Linked DNA regions of Homo sapiens. The protein of the gene in region 3 interacts with the protein of the main gene of each other region in a biochemical or structural test. Each region holds a gene or a part of one and is shown on either strand. Other genes may lie near its edges.

Region 1 (3,598 bases), on a different chromosome or scaffold from region 3:
TATAAAAGTCATCTTTGTGTACAATCCAATGGGTTTTTTTTTTCTTTTTGAGATGGAGTCTTACTCTGCTACCCAAGCTGGAGTGCAGTGGCACAATCTCGGCTCACTGCAACCTCTGCCTTCTGGTTCAAGCCATTCTCCTGCCTCAGCTTCCCAAGCAGCTGGGATTACAGGCACACACCACCACGCCCGGCTAATTTTTGTATTTTTGGTAGAGACAGGGTTTCACCATGTTGTCCAGGCTGGTTTTGAACTCCTGACCTCAGGTGATCCACCCGCCTCAGCCTCCCAAACTGCAGGCATGAGCCACTGGCGCCTGGCCCCCAGTGGTTTTTATTATATTAACAAAGTTGTACAACCATCATCACTATTTAATTACAGAACATTTTCATTACCCCCTCAAAGGCGCCAAACCCATTAGCAATAATTCCCCCCACCCAATGGCAACCACTAATCTACTTTTTGTCTCTGGATTTACCTATTCTGGATATTTAATATAATTGAATCCTATAATATATGGGCCTTAAGGGTCTGGCTTCTTTCACCTAGCATAGTGTTTTCAAGGTTTGTCCATGTGGTAGCAAGTATGAGTACTTCATTCCTTTTTATGGCTGAATAACATTCCACTCTGTGGGTATACCGTGTTTAGTCCAGTCATCAATTCGTGGACATCTGGGTTGTGTATCCATCTGGGCTATAATGAATAATGCTACTATGAACATTCGCGTATAAGTTTTTTTGTGAACACATATTTTCGGTTCTCTTGGGTTACCTAAGAGTGGAATTGCTGGTGATATAAATGGTAAATCTGTGTTTAACTTTTTGAGAAACTGCCAAACTACTTTCCAAAGTGGCCACATCAGTTTTTATTCCCTTGGCAGTGTATGAGAGTTTCAGCTTCTCCACATTCAGGTATCTTAGTCTGGCTCTGGGTGCCCCATCACCATTCCCGTTTCCTTCCAGGAGCTGCTCCGGACACAGGAGGAGCTTAAGGAACTGCAGGCAGAACGGCAGAGCCAGGAGGTGGCTGGGCGACACCGGGACCGGGAGTTGGAGAAGCAGCTGGCGGTCCTGAGGGTCGAGGCTGATCGAGGTCGGGAGCTGGAAGAACAGAACCTCCAGCTACAAAAGACCCTCCAGCAACTGCGACAGGACTGTGAAGAGGCTTCCAAGGCAAGGGGAGTGGGCACAGGGCTTAGGAGGTGGAGGCTGAGGGTGTCTGGAGGGCTGAGGAGCCAGAGGGTGTGGAAAGTTACCTGTCATGGGTATGTACTGACCAGCTCCTGGGTCCTAGGCATGTGGTTCAAAGAAGCCAGGATTTGGCAGGGGGAGGATACCTGTATCTGTGTAGGGGTGGGATTCTCAGAGAAGCGTCTGGCTGGTGGCAGCTGCTCTCTTTAAGCCTCATTCTTATGGGCTGTCTTTGGGATGGCTTTCCTGGGTGTGGTCAATGGCCCCAAGCCCTGGGGTCTGAGCTGCCACGCCCTGGGGTCTGAGCTGCCACCCCCTGAACCGTCCTTAGGCTAAGATGGTGGCCGAGGCAGAGGCAACAGTGCTGGGGCAGCGGCGGGCCGCAGTGGAGACGACGCTTCGGGAGACCCAGGAGGAAAATGACGAATTCCGCCGGCGCATCCTGGGTTTGGAGCAGCAGCTGAAGGAGACTCGAGGTCTGGTGGATGGTGGGGAAGCGGTGGAGGCACGACTACGGGACAAGCTGCAGCGGCTGGAGGTCAGTGGTTCTGCCCTCCCAGCCCTCTCTGCTCAGCCCTGGTGAAATACTCCTATGCTAAGTAGTTAGCCATCAGTTTCACTTTGCCCTTAGTGTGCATCTGTTTTGCCTCCCCAAACCTGCTCTGTTAACCTTGGGTTTATTTCCTGGTGTATACTTTGGCGCCAATGTTCAGTCTTTGCACTGGTAGTTTTGTTTCTTATTTCTCACCCTTTGCTTGCTCTATGTGTCCTGATTTCTTTGCTAGGAGCCTGTTTTCATTGCACATCATTTTCATAAATACCTCCTTTCTCCTGCCCAGCTACCCACCTCCAAATGACTTGAACCCAAGTTTTACCTTTTCTCAGTCCAACCCTGCTTCCCTACCTCCCAGGCAGAGAAACAGCAGCTGGAGGAGGCCCTGAATGCGTCCCAGGAAGAGGAGGGGAGTCTGGCAGCAGCCAAGCGGGCACTGGAGGCACGCCTAGAGGAGGCTCAGCGGGGGCTGGCCCGCCTGGGGCAGGAGCAGCAGACACTGAACCGGGCCCTGGAGGAGGAAGGGAAGCAGCGGGAGGTGCTCCGGCGAGGCAAGGCTGAGCTGGAGGAGCAGAAGCGTTTGCTGGACAGGACTGTGGACCGACTGAACAAGGAGGTGGGGCATGGGGTATTCTGGGCCTTTAGGAAGAGGCCCAGCTCATCCAGAAGCTGGCCTGAGAGGACAGGGGCTTGGGGGAGAGGGGTTAGTCAGAATGTGTGATGATTATGGCCAGGTGCGGTGACTCACTCCTGTAATTCCAGCACTTTGAGAGGCTGAGGTAGGCAGATACCCGAGGTCAGGAGTTTGAGACCAGCCTGGCCAACATAGCAAAACTCTGTCTCTACTAAAAATACAAAAAATTAGCCGGGCTTGGTGGCTCATGCCTGTAGTCCCAGCTACTCAGGAGGGTGATGCAGGAGAGTCACTTGCACCCGGAAGGTGGAGGTTGCAGTGAGGCGAGATCATGCCACTGCACTTCAGCCTGGGTGACAGAGCAAGACTCTGTCTTAAGAAAAAAAAAAAAAGAATGTGTGATGTTTGCTTTCCTCAAGTTCATTGTTAGGAAGACCAAGACCAAATCTTCTGGAAGGGGCATCCTTCCTACCTCCCCTCCATGTTTTTGCTCTTTCCCTTACATCCTATTCCTTTATGGTCTTCATTCTTGGAGAACATCTCCTGGGATTCTCCCTTGGGAGTCTACAAAACCTAAATACAAGAATCTTCAATGGCCAGCTTGGGCAACATAATAAGACTCTGTCTCTACTTAAAAATAAAATTAGCCTGCTGTGGTGGCTTGTTCCTCAGTTTCTCTTTATAGATGGGGAATTGAGACCCAGAGAAGATAAGTAACTTGCCTATGGTTGCTAATTAGTGGTAGAGCCAGGATTTGAACCCAGACATCTGTATTCCCAGCTACTCGGAAGGCTGACGTAGGATTGCTTGAGCCCAGGAGGTTGAGGCTGCAGTGAGCTGTGACTGCCCCACTGCGCTACAGCAAGAGCCTGTCAAAAAAAAAAATCTTCATTGGTAGAATTTTAAATTTGGGTGAGGGGAAGGAGAAAAGAAAGAAAAAAGAAAAGGAAATAAATTGCTTTTGCTGCTAAGGTTCTCCTCCCAATCTTTTTGTAAAGCAAGAGCAAACACGTAATATGTTACATCAATTCTAAAGTGCACATTTTATCATTTGTCAATGAAAAATGCACATCTTATCATTTGTCAATGAAAAATGCACATCTTATCATTTGTCAATGAAAAATGCACATCTTATCATTTGTCAATGAAAAATGCACATTTTATCATTTCTGAAATAGAGTTGTGTCTTATACCTTATGGTATGTTATAGTTTAATTGGC
Region 2 (3,598 bases), on a different chromosome or scaffold from region 3:
AGGCTAGTTGCTGTCTACTACTGCCACTGTTGTGCTATATTACTCAGGGTAACAAAATGCTCTTCCATTTTTCCTACCATGGATTGTCAAATAGCACAGTGAAGTAGTTAGTGTTTTAATTACTTTGTAGAGGAGATAAGCTCAGAAGGGTTAAAAACCTTGCTCAAGGTCTAAAACCTTGTAAGGTCTGATCATTACTACCTAGACCCACCATCCCACTCCAGCAATGACCGCCTGTGCTAACTGTATTATCGCACAAAGGTGGTAATGCTTGGAGTGGACATTCATCTGCTCTTTTACCTGCGTGACATCGCTGCTGCTTGTCTTCCTTTAGACAACTGCTCTGCCTCCCTCTAAAAACCCACATAGTGTTGGAATGGGCTGCCAATCACAGTAGCCCATCACCTTACCCTGGGGTTCCACTGCTGGGCACAGTGCCAAAGCTGAGCCAGTCTTAGTCCTCTAGCCCTGGCCACAGTGACCGGGCCTCATGTGGACACATAACACTGGCCAGACCAATCAGAATCCTACCATGAGGTTTGTCTGCCTGGGCTGATTGGATAGAGCTCCCTTTCTTCCCTGGTCAGGGGCTGTGAACCTGAACAGAGGGGCCTGAGGTCATGTTCAGACCCGTGGGAAAAGCCCACAGCATCGATCCAAGAGGTCAAACGTCCCAAAGGCCAGTTTCCACCATCCATCCAAAGGTTGTGGAATATTCTAAGTCAATACATTTCTCTTTTTCTACCTAAGATGATCTGAGCTAAGTTTCTGTCATTTTGCAATAAAGGTACCCTGAAATGATACACAGATAAAATCTGCCCTTCACTTAAAAACCTCTTCTCAACCATTAATTTCAAATGACTCTGCCACTTCCTCTTAAATAACACAATTAAAACCACCTAAATTAGCCATGCAGGGTGGCATGCGCCTGTAATCTTAGCTACTAAGGAGGCTGAGGCAGGAGGATGGCTTGAGCCCAGGAGTTTGAGGCTGCAGTGAGCTATGATTGCACCACTGCACTCCACTGTCTCTAAAAAATAAGTAAATAAACAAACAAAAGAACCAAAAGAAAAACCACAACAGCTGGAGCTTTTACTTATGTCCCTTGCCCTGCTGACCCTCCAGGGCAGAGGGGATGAAGAAAAGGTGGCTGGTACCCGAAGGAAGTGGAGAGAGAACAAAAGGCCAGGCAACCTCTGCTGAATAATAAATAACCCACACCTGACAATCAGCACCCATCTGCATTAGTCCCACTAGAAAAGCCTGGCAGGGTTATTCCCTTGGGGAAAAAAAACAAACTTCCAGCTCTAATTTCTGACAGTGTACAATGCCTAAATTCAAACCTCCCACTCAGCCTAGCCATTAAGGTCCTCCAGATTACCTCTGCATCCCCAATTCCCTTCCACCCAGAGCCAAGGCCAAACCCCTGCTCTGCTCAGGCTGGGTAAACACATGGCTCCTCTCTATGGCTCAGCCTGTGCGGTCCAGCCTACGCAGCCCACACGTCCTCCCTCCATGGCTCCATGCATTCAGAGCTTCACTTCAACACCAAGTCCCAGCACATTCGTGAAGCTCTCCTCGGCTTCTCCAGCGGACGCTGCTGGCTCCATTCTCTTAAGTTTGATGAAGCAAGCCAGCCAGTTCACTAGGAAAGTAAAGAGGAGGCACAGGAGGTGTGGGGAGTGGGAACGAGAAGGAAACATCAGGCAATGAGCACGCGAGAGGTCCAGCCAAGTTCTGCCATTTCTGCCTCCCAATAGAGGCCTGGTGGGAATGACTTGAGGAGTCCCACATTTAGATGGTAATGAGAGCCACTAAAGGTGAATGAGAGTATCTGGGGAAAGTGTGTAGCATACCGAGTTTTTTATAAAAGAAAAAGCCTGTTTGTGCATCTCTATCAGTTGACCTGTCTCATAATGTCACTCTCATGAGCGTCCCATTCCCCCAACAAGGCGGCAAGCTACGGACTAGAATTACATCCTGTGCACCCCGGCCCCTGTCTACACCCCAGCCCCACCTGGGCCAGGCACTTCAATGCTCCCGGTGACAGAGGCAGGCAGTGCAGCACCATTAGCCCCATCTTACAGATGAAGATACTGAGGCTCACCCCAGGGGCAGGGAGTTGAGAATCCTCAAGGGAAAAAACTCAGGTGTTTCCCCAAATCAAAGGGAAAAAACAAAGGACTGCATGGGGCTCCAAGTGACCAAGCTAGACTTGGTTACTGGGAAAAACAAGAGACCCAACTGAGCCACTCAGAAGTAAACAATTCTGTCTTCTCCCTACCACCAGCTGGGGCAAAGGTGTTCGCTTGTTCCCCGCAGATCCATGTATCAAATCCGGGACAAAAGAAAGCTACATAATTTCAGAGTCCCACAGTGACTGGAAATGTCCTGAAATTGTAGTGGGAAGGCCTAACCAGGGAACAGGAAAAACCACCCCAGACAAGGAATCAGGGGCACTGGGCTTGGCCTTGACTCAGGCACCTTTCTGCCCTGCGACTTCTTCCTTACAGACAGGGCCCTGGAACCAAAGATCATAAGACACCACTCATCTCCCTGGGGCTGCCACAGAGTTAATGAGATATGAAGATAGGACACAAAATCCTGAATGACAATGCCCTATCAATACCGGAATAAGAGCCACACCTCCAACAAAAAAACCACAACACAGTGTGTCTCCTAGTCACTCCACACCCCCAGGCCTGAGCGTGGTAGGTTTAAATGTCTGGGGATCTAACTCAGCAAGAGTTGCCCCGATGGGTTGGGTTTGCTCACCTGCCCACCAACACCCAGGCACATGTCCTCCCCAGTTTCCTTCCAGTTCCAGGCCCCACGTGGTAGGCTGCTGCCGATGCAGACTCCCTCAGCACCCAAGTGCCAGTGGGGGATGGGCATTCTGGATCAGGAGCCCACACAGGGTGTGGAATCCATCAAGGAAGCTCCTAGGTGGGTGATGGCATCATCTCCAACAGAGAATCGGTGCCAAAGCAGCCACCCCTTGACGCTAAGGATCCCAGGGAGCCAGCTGGTTCCTCTCTCAGGCTCCGCAATGGCCTCGAACTGAGGCCAATTCAAACCCAGAGCTGCTGCCCAGAGCACAGAGTGGAAATCACTCAGGAGTGGAAGGAGGCAGGACCAAGTGCTGGGTTTTCCTGACTATGGCTCCTCAAGGAAGAAGACTTCCATTCCTTCAGCCAGAGCCGCTCTCTTATGCACTGAGCTTTGACCATAAGGAATACTTCCTGGCTAAAAGAAAAAAAAGCAAAAAAGTGGAGACCTACAACACAGCAATTTACCCTTCACAAAGGAGCCTCCCCTGCGCCGGGGCAGTGGCTCACGCCTGTAATCCCAACACTTTTGGGAGGCTGAGGCAAGCAGATCGCTTGAGCTCAGGAGTTCGAGACCATCCTAGACAACATGGAGAAATGCCATCTCTACACAATATACAAAAATTAGCTGGTGTGGTGGCATGTGCCTGTGGTCCCAGCTACTTGCGGGGCTGAGGCAGGAGGATGGCTTGAGACCAGGAGGCGGAGGCTGCAGTGAGCCGAGATTGTGCCACTGCACTCCAGCCTGGGTGACACAGTGAGACCCTGTC
Region 3 (5,124 bases):
AGATTTGTTTCCCTAGAATTACACACAGACACTAGCACATTCTTTCAAGGAAGAAAATGCACTGGAAATCCTTAATTGTGGCTTTCAATTCACTACTCACCATCTGTCTGTTTCTTAATTTTCAAGGTGACAGTCTCTCCTGCCATCTGTAACAAATGGATGGCTTCACTCAGAGGCTTCCCTTTCAAGCTGCTGCTATTGATGGCTAGGATTCGGTCTCCTATGTGGATTGCGCCAGTTCTGAAAAGCCAAATAGTAATAGGAGAGGTAGAAATAATCCCTGTATGGTACTGAATATAAATTCCCTGACATACCTTATACATTCATCATAATAAAGACTTGGTAAGGATCTCCAGAAGTCCCTTCTTGCTTTCTCCTGGGCAATGTTATAAGATAACTGCATCTGTTGTGGATTACTTTTTAGTTTCCAATAAAATTTTAAAAATTGTTTTAATTAGTTATTAAAATGAACTGTGTTTTTTAATTCCAAGAAAGCTGAGTCATTGGTTAAGCACCCTAAAAATCCCAAGAAAATGAACAATGTTGAATGACAAATGTAGTGGATAGCATGGAGCATCCTTTCTTTCTACAGATTTTTTTTTTTTTTTTTTTTTTTTTTTGAGACAGAGCCTCACTGTGTCACCCAGGCTGGAGTCCAGTGGCACGATCTTGGCTCACTGCAACCTCCGCATCCCGGGTTCAAGCAATTCTCCAGCCTCAGCCTCCCAAGTAGCTGGGATTACAGGCAAGCACCACCATCCCCAGCTAATTTTTCTATTTTTAGTAGAGATGAGGTTTCCCCATTGGCCAGGCTGGTCTTGAACTGACCTCGTGATCCATCTACCTCGGCCTCCCAAAGTTCTGGGATTACAGGTGTGAGCCACCGCACCTGGCCTGTATGAGCTAATTTCTAAGGTACACTGCAGCTCCAACATTTTGCAATGCTGTGTCTCTATTTTGCTAGCCACTGTTTTCAACTGTTAGCAGGAACAATGCATTTGTGTATTCCTGAGCTAGGTTACTGGAGGGCAGATTTGCTTATAGGGTTTGTTATATGTCCAACAACACATCTCAGAAAGAAATGCAGTTTAGCGGAGGGTGGGGAGTGGGTGTGTGTGTACATCATTGCCAAAGGAAAAAATGGACATTCCAGCTTTTAAGACATTATTAAAATGGGTTATACACTTTGTTTCCCATAATCCTTGAAGATGATGTCTGTATCATCCTTTTCTGAAAACACAGCAGCTAAGTGTGGCACCTGTCAGGTAACAGAGGCTCAGCAAGTGTTTGCTGAATGAAATTGGACAAGCTGTTCAACCTCCCTGAACTTTAGTTTCCTCCTCTCAAAATGGACACAATACAAATCCGCCTTCAGTCAATTGTGGTCAGCTTATACATTTCAGAGAGTAGTATCAATGCTAAGCCCAAGACGTCTTTTACTGCCTGTAAGATGCCCCTCAGAGTCAAGTCGGAACTCTGCCTGAGAGTTCTCAGGCTCTAAGATCAATCCTTTGTGCAGATTTTTAAAAGCCAACAGATAACCACAGAGAGAGGAGCATGTTTTTATGTGGTTGTGAGGAAGGAAGCCCGTCTCAGACACAGGTAATTATAACAGTTACTTCAAATTTTACCTTTCAGCTAATCCCCCTTTAGTGAGGCTTGAAATGATTATAGGATCAAACGGCTCTTCAGTTCCTGAAATTGTGATGCCAAGGGGCCCCCCGTAGCGTTTAAGCTCCACGGTGTAAATAATTGCTCCGGAACTTTCTTGCTCATCTGTAATAAATGCCAAGGAATCATAATTGATTTCTTTGGAAAAAGCAAAAGAGTAAGATGCATAGATTCATACATAAAAGAATTCAAAACATCCTCGTCAAAGTATCATGTCACAGAAAATAATTATTTTGGGAAGTAGCATTTCCTTAGTAGGATCTTACATTCAAATACAGGGATATAATCATTGTCAGTGCCAGGGGAGAGGAACACTGCCTAATGACTTATGTTTTAAATGTGTGAGATCCGCCCAGCTGGGGCTGCAGGACCTTTCAACTGTGTCCATGTCTAGGACAGTGCTTACCTAGCATTTAGTAAGTATGCAGTAAATATCTGTGAAATAAACATATGGCTGAGGAGGCATTATAATATGAGAGGAGAGAGTCACTCAGTAACAAAGAAGACAGACATTGGGTCACGCTGTTTCCGTTTTAAGCTTTACATGCATGCTAACTTTTGATATAGAAAAGTGGATTTTGCGAAGGGTTGGAACAAATAACATATATATGGTTAAGTGGAACTTAGATAAGTAAACTTGAAGACAACAGCAAGAAATCTAGAATCTCTTAGATATCATTCCACTGACTGTCTTCTAATGTGAGTCCTATCAGTGAATTACGGATATTAAAGTGGAGGTTTGAATGATCATCTCTCCTCTTTCAATGGAGTAACAGCTGTTGTAAGCTATGTTTCAACAGCATAGACCAGCCTGCCACACTGTCATAAACTAATTTTGGCTATTCAACATTATTATAGTTGAAGACACTTGTGAATGTGCTCTGCCTAAAGCACTGGCCAGAAAGATATCATGGGCCGCCTTCAACGTGATGGGTATTGTGATGGTGTCAGAGTTGCAAATAAGAAGTCTCAGAATTCAAAGGTTTTATTTGCTTCTGACATGCTTAAAGTTCTTGGGCACTTCTTGTTTTATTCCTTGGGCCTGGGAGCTGTGAATGGTTAAGGAACTGTTTCATTTCTGCAACTAAGGATAAAATGAAATGGTTCAGTGGCTACTTTAGCAAAATAGTCAGCTTTTACAGTCAGACTACATCCTAGTGAAGCATTAACATGGCCACATTTTTGCAGTGAGCAGCTGTTCGTTTACGATATGAAATCCTAAAATAAGGAGGAAAACCAAAGCTTGAGTTAACAATTCAATTATTTGTGTTTGCAGTGAAGAATTATGATGAATATAAAATGAAAGGTCTATCAAGTCATTTGGGAAGCAATGTGTCCTCTCTCGCCAGCACTTACTTCACTTCTGGCCATAGATTGGGAGTTTTGAATGCAGCCATTACCTCCACTTTCTGAGTGCTCTACTCAACGTATTTACTCCACACATTCAGAACTAAAGACCATCCACCACACACTGCAATGCTTAAGTCAACATTTTAGGGCACAAAATCTTCAACATTGGGCTCAAATTTACATTAGCAGCTGAGAAGCTCCCATATCAAGCCTAAAACAGCTCTGTTTGCTGGTTCACAAGTTTCTTCTGGGCTGATGCTGAAGTTGTGGCCAATAGGCTGGTGATGATCTGCTAAGGGCTCCAGAGAGAAACATCAAGATAGAGGGTAACCAAATAATCAGCAGAGGTCAAAAGTCTAAATTTTCCTACAGTACGATATTTTGTCACCTTTCAGAGCTGGCTTTGACCTAAATGAACAGAGTACTATTGGATAGATTACATGTACTTTGCAGCCCTCATCATCAACAATATCCTGGATGAAATTCTGAATGAGTCATTTGATTAGTAGTCCCTGGCACAGTTGAACATTAGTTACTGCTGGACACTCTGTGTGGGCCATTCAGTGGAGGTGTGTATGCCATAGGAAAGACCTTGACCCCTTATTGCTCTCTGCATAAGGCAAGCATGAGCACAAACTTGTCAATGGGTGCCAAGCATTTTGGGTTGGAGCATCTGCTCTTTATGGGTTTTGGGGAGAAGGACAGTTGCCCAGGACCTGGAGACCCAAGAACCAGTGGGAAGTGTCCATTGAAACTGCAGTCAAGATGAAAACAAACACTGGACTATGGAAGGGGAGTTGGGGGTAGTCCCATTCATTGGGAGAAGGGGGGCACCTGGTTCTACTCAGCTCATTCTGCAGAGTGAGTATTCCATGTTATTTTTTGACAATGTAACTTGAGACGCAAAGATGACAAAATAATACCAGAGATGAAGTGAATGGCTTTAGGATAGTCTGTTTCAGGCTGCCTTATTTGGAGACATTTTTTTATTGGCATCTGAGTCCTCACTGACTAGAAGGCAATTGTTAGGTCACCCAATGAGTTTAGATAGTGATGGAGATGCAAATCTGGGAAATGGTACCTCTTAACTAAGAAGGACACATTCCTGTGATTACATTGGGGTGGAAACAGGATGACATGATATTCTATTTAAATTATGACAGAAATGGAAGCTGATTTCTGTTTTCTTTAACAAATAAATTGCCAGAAACACAAAAGAGAAAGGAGATTTGGCCAGGTGCAGTGGCTCACACCTGTAATCCCAGCGCTTTGGGAGGCCAAGGTGGGTGGACCACCTGAGGTCAGGAGTTCAAGACCAGCCTGGCCAACGTGATGAATCCCCGTCTTAACTAAAAATACAAAAATTAGCCAGGCATGGTGCCTCGTGCCTGTAGTCCCAGCTATTTAGAAGGCTGAAGCAGGAGAATCACTTGAACCCAGGAAGTGGAAGTTGCAGTGAGCTGAGATCATGTCACTGCTCTCCAGCCTGGGCGATGGAGCGAGACTCTGTCTCAAAAAAAAAAAAAAAAAAAAAAAAGAGAAAAGGGAGATTTAAGAGACATTACAATCAAAAGCAATGAGTAGATCATTTGGGATTCTAATAAAACCAACTGTTATAAAAAGGTATCTATTGGCCAGGCGCAGTGGCTCACGGCTGTAATCCCAGCACTTTGGGAGGCCAAAGTAGGCGGATCACCTTAGGTCAGGAGTTTGAGATCACACTGGCCAACATGTCCAAAACCCCGTCTCTACTAAAAATACAAAAATTAGCCAAGTGTGGTGGCACGTGCCTGTAGTCCCACCTACTCAGGAGGCTGAGGCAGGAGAATCGCTTAAACCTGGGAGGTGGAGGTTGCAGTGAGCCAAGACTGTGCCACTGCACTCCAGGGTGAGTGACACAGCAAGACACCCTCTAAAAAAAAAAAAAAAGCTATGTGTTTTTCTATCAGATAGATTGCTTTAAAAAAACAGTTGGTTTTAATTAGGATTTTATATATATCAGGGAAATGTGAACATTGAGTGAATATTTTATAAGATTAAAAATATTGCTAATGATGATATTTAGTTATGTGTTTTGAAAGAGTATTTTTTAGGCATACGTTA
Region 4 (3,598 bases), on a different chromosome or scaffold from region 3:
TTTTGTATTTTTAGTAGAGACAGGGCTTCACCATGTTGGCCAGGGTGGTCTTGATTTCTTGACCTCATGATCCATCCACCTCGGCCTCCTAAAGTGCTGGGATTACAGGTGTGAGCCACCGTGCCTGGCCTTTTTTTTTTTTTTTTTTTTTTTTGAGACAGAATCTCACTCTGTTGCCCAGGTTGGAGTGCAGTGGCACGATCACGGCTCACTGCAATCTTGATCTCCCAAGACTCAGGTATTCCTCCTGCCTTAACCCCCAAGTAGCTGGAACTACAGATGAGCACCACCATGCCCAGCTAATTTTTGTATCTTTAGTGGAAATGGGGTTTTGCCATGTTGCATAGGCTGGTCTCGAACTCCTGGGCTCAAGTCATACACCTACACCAGCCTCAGCCTCCCAAAGTGTTGTGATTACAGGCATGAACCACTGCACCCAGCCTGAGATTCTTAATTTTAATGAAGTATACTTTATCAATCTTGTCCTTTATGGTTACTGCTTTTTGTGTCCTATTTAAGAAATCAATGCCTAACCTGAGAATATGAACATATTTTTCTGTGTTGTCTTATAGCAATTTTATTTTACTTTTTGCAAAAAAAATTTTTTTTTTTTTCAGACAGGGTCTGAAGTGCAGTGGTGCAGTCTCAGAACACTGCAACCTCCGCCTCCTGTGCTCAAGCATTCCTCCCACCTCAGCCTCCTGAGTAGCTGTGACTACGACTACAGGCATATGCCACCATGCCTGGCTAATTTTTGTATGTTTTGTAGAGTCAGGGTTTCAACATATTACCCAGGCTGGTCTCAAACTCTTGGGCTCAAGCAATCTGCCCTCTTCGGCTTCCCAAAGTGCTGGGATTACAGGTGTGAGCCACTGTACCCATCCCCTACTTTTTGCATTTAAGGTATATAATTTAGAGTAAATTCTTGATGAATCGCAGGGGTCAAGATTCACTTTTTAGGCCGGGCGTGGTGGCTCATGCCTGAAATCCCAGCACTTTGGGAGGCCGAGGCGAGCGGATCATGAGGTCAGGAGTTTGAGACCAGCCTAGCCAACATGGCGAAACCCTGTCTCTACTAAAAATACAAAAATTAGCTGGGCGTGGTGGCGGGTGCCTGTAATCCCAGCTACTCAGGAGGCTGAGGCAGGAGAATCGCTTGAACCTAGGAGGCAGAGGTTGCAGTGAGCCGAGATTGTGCCATTGCACTCTAGCCTGGGCGACAGAGTGAGACTCGGTCTCAAAAAAAAAAAAAAAAATTTACTTTTTTTTTTCTTTGAGACAAGGTCTCACTGTATCACCCAGGCTGGAGTGCAGTAACATGATCTCCACCTGCTTTGACCTCCCAAAGTGCTGGGATTTAGGCATGACCCACTGCACCGGGCCAAGATTCACTTTTTTCTATATAGACGTCTGTTTGATCCAGCACCATTTATTGCAAATACCATCCTTGTCCATCTGCACTGTGTGGCACTTTTTTTCATAAATTAGATAACAGTATGGTCAGCTAATTTATGAAATTAGTGTGGGTCTGTTTCTGGATACTTTGTTCTATTTGTATATTTGTCATCCTTGCACTAATATCACTGTATTAATGTAACTTTATAATAAGCTTTGATATGTGGTAATATAAGCTCTCCAACTTTGAGAGGTGGGCAAAGAAAGTGGGCTGTGGGCAGGGGCTGCTTTTCATCAAACACACTTCTGTTTAACCCCTTGGCTTTCAGCCTTGAGCCTTACTTTACTTTTCTTGAGTCTGGAGTCTCACAGGTGTATTAGTCTGTTCTCATGCTGCTATGAAGAATACCCAAGACGGGGTAATTTATAAAGAAAAGAGGTGTAATTGACTTACAGTGCCATATGGCTGGGGAGGCATCAGGAAACTTACAACCATGGTGGAAAGCACCTCTTCACAGGGGAACAGGAGAGCGAATGAATGCCCAGCAAAGGGTGAAGCCCCCTGTAAAACCATCAGATCTCGTGAGAACTCACTCACTATCACAATAACAGGGTGGGGGAAATTGCCCCTTTGATTCATTTATCTCCACCTGGTCCTGCCCTTGACATGTGGGGATTATTAACAATTTAAGGTGAGATTTGGGTGGGGACACAGAGCCAAATCGTATCACCAGGTCAGAGTTTCTAGAAAATAAATTTATGAGATAGGAATGGTGGCAGAGGAGGGAACCTAGACTAGAGTCCAACTGTACCTTACATAAACTTTAAACCATTTACTTTCTCTTTAGCCCCATGCCTCTCCACTGACCCTATACCTGGGAACTCCTAGGCTCCTAGATTCTGAGCCTTTCTGTGATTCTGTGAGTTAGCCAAATCAGCTTGCTTCTTTTTATTTTTTAAATTAAAAAAATTTTTATATCACTTTATCTGGCAGCCTTCTTCTGAGCCAGAATAGGCTCAGAGAGACTCCTCAGCTTGTTTCTTGATTGTATTCCCTTTTGCAGGCCAGTAGGTTCAGCCTCCTCTACTCAGTCACTTATTTCTCCATCTCTTCTTGTTTCATGGGTGCCATATCTGTTCTTATCTCTCTGAGAATGTTAAAAATCGTTTTCTTAAGCCTTTCTTTTTTTTTTTTTGAGACGGAGTCTCAGCCACCCAGGCTAGAGTGCAGTGGCGTGATCTCGGCTCACTGCAGCCACCATCTTCCGGGTACAAGCGATTCCCCGTCTCGGCCCTCCAAGTAGCTGGTATTACAGGCATCTGCCATCATGCCCAGCTAATTTTTGTATTTTTAGTAGAGCCGGGTTTTCACCATGTTGGCCAGGCTGGTCTTGAACTCCTTACCTCAGGTGATCCGTCCACCTTGGCCTCCCAAAGTGCTAGGACTACAGCTGTGAGGCACTGCACCTGGCCTAGACCTTCTTTTCCTTGCATAGTTTCTTCCAAGTTACTTTTTTTCCTATTTGGTATAGTCTTATTAGTAGAGGCCCTCCTCGGAAGACTGGTAATCCTTGGTTGTCTGTTCATGATTAACAGTGGGCTACTGAAAGCTGATGGGAAGTCCTGAACTTGTAAGTAGGACTTAAGGACATGTTGTTTTACCCTATATTCTAGAGTCTAAAGCAGTGATTCTCAGCTTCGGCTGCACATTATAATCACATGGAGAATTAAAAAAAAAAATCCCTGCTGCTAATACGTCAGAATCTCTGAGACTAGGTCCCAGGTAGGGATAGTTAAAAAAATTAGGTGTGGCTACATACAGTAAAATGCACAGAATTTAAGTGTATAGTTTGATTTTTACCATGTAACCGATATAAGATGTAGAGCATGGCAAAAAATTCTAGAAAATTCCTTCATATCCCTTTCTTCTGTTGTCTCACTCCCAGCCTAGAGGTGACCACTATTCTGATTTCTATCTCCGAAGATTAGCACCAGTATTTTTTAAAGCTGCCAAGATAATTCCAGTGTGTAGCCAAGATTGAAATAATTGATCTGGGTGGATTGTTTGAGGCTGTCTCCACTGTATTTATCTTTCCTTTTGTCCCAGTCATATTTTCCAGAGAGTATCTTCCAGTTTTCTGCTTGGAGAGTTGAGGTCTGGTTGTCAGTATCTGGGAACTCAGGAAAAGAGGGTTGGGTAAGG

Evidence for each region.
Region 1: the proteins of GRIP1 (region 3) and CGN interact in a test that uses a peptide from one of them, tested with the Homo sapiens proteins (one large-scale study listed by IntAct).
Region 2: the proteins of GRIP1 (region 3) and DLG5 interact in a test that uses a peptide from one of them, tested with the Homo sapiens proteins (one large-scale study listed by IntAct).
Region 4: the proteins of GRIP1 (region 3) and EVI5 interact in a test that uses a peptide from one of them, tested with the Homo sapiens proteins (one large-scale study listed by IntAct).

The regions. Positions count from the first base shown.
Region 1 is NC_000001.11:151,528,387-151,531,984, forward strand, and holds part of CGN (cingulin), read left to right. Parts: intron 1-963; coding exon 964-1,173; exon of another isoform or gene 1,174-1,178; intron 1,179-1,522; coding exon 1,523-1,729; intron 1,730-2,102; coding exon 2,103-2,360; intron 2,361-3,598. UniProt on the Homo sapiens protein: Probably plays a role in the formation and regulation of the tight junction (TJ) paracellular permeability barrier.
Region 2 is NC_000010.11:77,920,158-77,923,755, forward strand, and holds part of DLG5 (disks large homolog 5), read right to left. Parts: intron 1-3,598. UniProt on the Homo sapiens protein: Acts as a regulator of the Hippo signaling pathway.
Region 3 is NC_000012.12:66,392,577-66,397,700, forward strand, and holds part of GRIP1 (glutamate receptor-interacting protein 1), read right to left. Parts: intron 1,777-5,124; coding exon 1,632-1,776; intron 241-1,631; coding exon 101-240; intron 1-100. UniProt on the Homo sapiens protein: May play a role as a localized scaffold for the assembly of a multiprotein signaling complex and as mediator of the trafficking of its binding partners at specific subcellular location in neurons.
Region 4 is NC_000001.11:92,778,511-92,782,108, reverse strand, and holds part of EVI5 (ecotropic viral integration site 5 protein homolog), read left to right. Parts: intron 1-3,598. UniProt on the Homo sapiens protein: Functions as a regulator of cell cycle progression by stabilizing the FBXO5 protein and promoting cyclin-A accumulation during interphase. May play a role in cytokinesis.